Regions from separate parts of the Homo sapiens genome. Here region 1 is linked to region 2. Evidence: fine-mapped expression QTL. Tissue or cell type: naive CD4 T cells. Region 2 holds a variant in brackets; the other region holds the start of a gene. All regions are shown on one strand. Distances are from middle to middle.

Region 1 (2,500 bases), 88 kb before region 2:
TGCAATTCTCCTGCCTCAGCCTCCCGAGAAGCTGGGACTACAGGGTCGTGCCACCACGCCCAGCTAATTTTTGTATTTTTTTTAGTAGAGACGAGGTTTCACCATGTTGGCCAGGATGGTCTCTATCGCTTGACCTCGTGATCCACCCGCCTCGGCCTCCCAAAGTGCTGGGATAACAGGTGTGAGCCACTGAGCCCAGCCCCTGGAAAGCCTCAGCTTTGATGCAGGGTTAACATTTGCCTTTGGGACATATTTCGTCAGCATCTCAAAGAGTAACCCATATGTCCTTGAGCAGATGGGAATGCAACAGCCTTCTGGCCGGAACCTGTCTCTTTCTTTCTTTCTTTCTTTTGAGACGGAGTTTCGCTCTTGTTGCCCAGGCTGGAGTGTAATGGCACGATCTCGGCTCACCGCAACTCCGCCTCCCGGGTTCAAGCGATTCTCCTGCCTCAGCCTCCCGAATAGCTAAGACTCCAGGTGCGCGCCACTACGCCCGGTTAATTTTGCATTTTTAGTAGAGACGGGGTTTCTCCATGTTGGTCAGGCTGGTCTCGAACTCCCGACCTCAGGTGATCCGCCCGCCTCGGCCTCCCAAAGTGCTGGGATTACAGGCGTGAGCCACCACGCCCGGCCACTTGTCTCTTTTTTATGCAAGTGTTTTTTGGAATTTGGGGGTTCAGGTGAGCAGGTGCTCTGCTGCTGGTAACTACTCGCAGTTAAAGATCTTTTGACTCTTTCCCCGACACGCTATTTGTCAGTGTCGTTTTCCACCACAGAGCCAGGTATTTGCCCCGCCGGCCACGGTGAGGCGCGCGAGGCGTGTGCTGCCAGCTTCTCTCTTCCTTCCCCGGTCCGCCTTCGCGCCCTTAAGGAGACAGTCCCTGGGAGTTTCTGCCTTTGGTCTCCAGTTATTGTTCTCTTCTCGCGAGAACTGCTCCTCCCATCCTCTTCTCTCACGAAGCCCCGCCCGCGGAGAGGTTCCATATTGGGTAAAATCTCGGCTCTCGGAGAGTCCCGGGAGCTGTTCTCGCGAGAGTACTGCGGGAGGCTCCCGTTTGCTGGCTCTTGGAACCGCGACCACTGGAGCCTTAGCGGGCGCAGCAGCTGGAACGGGAGTACTGCGACGCAGCCCGGAGTCGGCCTTGTAGGGGCGAAGGTGCAGGGAGATCGCGGCGGGCGCAGTCTTGAGCGCCGGAGCGCGTCCCTGCCCTTAGCGGGGCTTGCCCCAGTCGCAGGGGCACATCCAGCCGCTGCGGCTGACAGCAGCCGCGCGCGCGGGAGTCTGCGGGGTCGCGGCAGCCGCACCTGCGCGGGCGACCAGCGCAAGGTCCCCGCCCGGCTGGGCGGGCAGCAAGGGCCGGGGAGAGGGTGCGGGTGCAGGCGGGGGCCCCACAGGGCCACCTTCTTGCCCGGCGGCTGCCGCTGGAAAATGTCTCAGGAGAGGCCCACGTTCTACCGGCAGGAGCTGAACAAGACAATCTGGGAGGTGCCCGAGCGTTACCAGAACCTGTCTCCAGTGGGCTCTGGCGCCTATGGCTCTGTGTGGTGAGTGTCGCTGGGCCTGGGGCCGCTGTGGGCAGGGTGGCCCCTCGCGCCCGAGGGCCAGGCCTGCTCCACTGCTCAGCGTTGCGTCAAGTGGCAGGAATTTTCCTCGGGGGAGGGCATTGCTGCCCCTTCGAGCTCTGCCCGTTCTGCACCTCCAGCACCCCTCGCCCTGCACTCACGCAGGTATGCGGTCCACCGTGTGCAGCACTCAGGTCCGCTGCGAGAGGTAGGTGGTGGTGCTGGAGCTCGGTTCTGGCTAGCACCCTGCGCCTTCCCCTCTCGGAGGGTTGCTGCTCGGCAACAGGCACCGGGGGAAGGGCCGCTTCCTTGGGGGTCTCCCTGCCTACCTGGAGCAGAAGGACCCTCTCCCGTGATGCGCCCACGCTGGGGCTCCGGACCCTGGGTCCTCTGAGCAGACAAGCTCGGGGAACTGCCGGGAGAAGCAGAAGGGCACAGCCCAACCCGAAGACTGCGGTCATCTGAACAAAACTGACCAGGAAGGGAGCTCTCTCCGGGCCTTTTTTTTTTTTTTTTTTTTTCAAAACTCTGTCGAAATCCCATCTTGAAAAGCGTTCTTTTTGAATTCGCACTTGAATTAACAGCGATCCATAGAGCTTAAAATACCGACTTTATCTCGGTGAGCACTGTGCCAGCTTGAGTGGTGTGTTTCCGATTCGGTTGAAAGCGTATTTCCTTTCCGTGGAGGGGCGGCGGTGGTAGTGCCTGCAAGAACACTGCAGCTTGAGAAACTGGCAGGCTCACTGATTAGTCACATACCACTGCTCATTTAAGTATTGTTCGACAAAACAATTTTCTCATTTGGAGCAAGAAAGATTCAGATCTGTAAGGCGCCCTCAAGATCAAAAAGTTATTAACAGTGCTGGGAGGTATTGTAAATATTTTTTGAGATAATTCCTGCGAATACTGTGTTTTAAAAGTCCCTTAGAGAGCTTGC
Region 2 (2,756 bases):
ACCTGGGAGGCGGAGGTTGCAGTGAGCCAAGATGACACCGCAGCACTCCAGCCTGGGCAACAAGAGTGGAACTCTGTTTAAAAAAAAAAAAAAAAAGTAGCTTGGCATCTTGGAGGAAAAGTACAAATTGGAAAGGCCTTTTTAGACTCAAATACATATTTTTAGGGGAAATATGTTTGGTACTGAATAAAGGTCATTTCATTTCTTAAAAAAAAACAGTAGGTTGAGTAAATTAAGTTATCCTTTGTTCAGAAGTTCTTTGCCATTATCCACAGGCAGAAAATCTGGTAATTAAACTGGGGGTATGACTACAAGATTTTCTTAGACCAGTAAGGAAATAACAAATCTCAATGTGCCTGGTGTGTTGTCGACACTCAAGATACTGGTTAGTCTGCATCTCACGAGTTGACAGGGGGCATCGAGGCTGTCTTGTTAGGGGGAGTTTGCAGCCTTCTGCATCTGGGAACAGTGTGTGTCTCTAAAGCCAACTGGGGAGAGAGCTTCTGAGGACAAATGGTCCTGAGGCAGTTTCTGGAAAACCCATTATTGAAGCCATAGGCTGTGGTCTAAGTACGCATAGCCAGTGGGATAATGTTATATTGCAGAGTTATTTGAGTAGTTCAATTTAAGGAAGGTGCTTTGTTTAGAAGTTATTATAAGTTAAATAAGGAAGTAACCTTCAGTTTGCAACTAAAAATAGAAACTGCCACCACCATTTGAGTGTCAGTTGCAGCAGAAAAGAAGAAGGTGTAAAACCACAGACCCAGCCTAGATTCTTAACAAAAACCAGTGGTTCTAAACTCTTGTCAGATCTATTACCCTTTGCATAACTAATATTTTATAATACCTCTTTTATAATGCTGAGGTGAAATTCATAGATAATTCACACAATTTCAAAGAAAATATAATGATCCAATATAAATGACAAAGGAAAAATACGAATACATTTCCATATATAAGTGCTGGCTGGGCATGGTGGCTCGCACCTGTAATCCCGGCACTTTGGGAGGCTGAGGCGGGCAGAACACTTGAGGTCAGGAGTTTAGGATGAGCCTGGCCAACATGGAGAAACCCGTCTCTACAGAAAATTTTTAAAACGTTAACTGGGGCGGGGCGCAGTGGCTTACACCTGTAATCACAGCACTTTGGGAGGCTGAGGCAAGTGGATCACTCGCCATCCTGGCCAACATGGTGAAACCCCATCTCTACTAAAAATACGAAATTAGTACAAGATAGAAAAATTAGTCAGCTGTGGTGGCACCCACCTGGGTCCCAGCTACTCAGGAGGCTGAGGCGGGAAAATTGCTTGAACCTGGGAGGTGGATCTTGCAGTAAGCTGAGATCATGCCACTGCACTCCAGCCTGGGCAACAGAGGGAGACTCCGTCTCAAAAAAAAAAAAAAAAATGAAAAAATAAAAAGTTATCTGGGCATGGTGGCACACACCTGTAGTCCCAGCTACTGAGGAGGCTGAGGCAGGAAGATTGCTTAAGCC[A/T]TGGAGGTTGAGGCTGCAGTGAGCCATGATCATTCCACTGCACTCCAGCCTGGGTGACAGAGTGAGACCCTGTCTAAAAAAAAATAAAAAGTAAATTCTCAGGCATAGCTACATAAAAGAAATAATGAAGTAGTTAGATGCTTGTACCTATACATAGAATCACCTTGAATATGACAGCTCCAAATGCGTACTGATACAGTTGTGTTGTCTTGACAACTCAGATACCATGGCTGACTGCTGTCAGTCATGATTTTTCTGAAAGTGGTAAGCAACTCTTGGTAAAAATTTCAAACAAACAATTAGAATCTTTTTTTTTTTTTGGACAGGGTCTCAGTCTGTTGCCCAGCCTGGAGAACTTTTTTATTTACTCAGTTGTGATCCTGGGAAATGTAAGTATATTAATATGCAGAAAAGTATTTGTTTGATATGTAAAACCAAGTTACAGTCTAGGCTCAGATAATCATAAATAGTTTTTTCCACCTTCATGAATGTCCAGCAGGATGTTTGTAATGTGAAGCAATTCTTGTTAAGAATCCCACTCTGCACAGTGGCCCGTGCATGCTCATATCAGTAATACTCCTGATCAGTATGATAACCAAAAATGGCCCCAGAGATTTCAGTGCACCCGCTGAGAACTGCTGACAGATCAAATGACTCTGGGACACCTGGAGTCCTAAGAAGTGAAACCTCCACAATGCAGGACAGACCTGGCTCCCTATGGTCTTCCTTCCTTCCTTCACCTCCTTCCCCCTACTTTCCTTACCTCCCTACTAAAAAGTAGTTCTTTTAATGAACTGCTACTGTATGTTAGGCAATTTACATTCTTGCATATTCTATACAAGTAATGTCTCTTTCTCAGTCACGTTACAACTGAGGCTAGATTCAACAGACTATCCTGATATCAACGTTGAAAGACTCCTGGTTCCAAAGAGTTTTATAGCATTGGTGTTAGACAATCCTCTTTTGGTTTTTTTAAAGAAAATTTAAAAAAATTAATTCAGCATAATTTCCATAAGGACTCCCTGGCTGCTGCTGGCCAAATTGGGGAGGAGTCCCTGGCAGCCACAGCCAGGCACTGGTGCCTTATCTTGTTCAGCACACACTGGGTCTCTCTCCCTAGTTCCAGGCCCCTTGCCCTCGCTTCTCTACTCATCTGGGATAGAAATGCACCTCCAGGCCTCTGAAGAGAAACTACCTTTTCCCTCTTTCAGCCAAAAGGGCTCAAGCCAGCACTCGCTTTGTATGTCCTAGAAGATGAGCAT

Direction of the effects. Alleles are on the strand shown, and positions count from the first base shown. SD is a standard deviation of normalised expression in the study named.
With allele A in place of T in region 2, the expression in naive CD4 T cells of the gene that starts at base 1,080 in region 1 is higher (large effect, 0.82 SD a copy in Schmiedel 2018).

Evidence for each region. PIP is the estimated chance that this variant, and not a neighbour inherited with it, causes the effect.
Region 1: MAPK14 starts here. The variant in region 2 is fine-mapped to the expression of MAPK14 in naive CD4 T cells (Schmiedel 2018, PIP 0.93).

The regions. Positions count from the first base shown.
Region 1 is chr6:36,026,729-36,029,228 of GRCh38, forward strand. It overlaps MAPK14 (mitogen-activated protein kinase 14), which reads left to right and starts at 1,080. Exons shown (of 12, transcript NM_139012.3): 1 at 1,080-1,545. The coding sequence starts at 1,430. RefSeq lists an enhancer at 691-1,130 and a silencer at 1,321-1,420.
Region 2 is chr6:36,114,539-36,117,294 of GRCh38, forward strand. It overlaps a transcript of MAPK14 not described here. Among named protein-coding and RNA genes, the nearest start is that of MAPK13, 15 kb to the right of the region's middle. RefSeq lists an enhancer at 700-779. The variant A/T (reference allele first, on the strand shown) is at 1,495.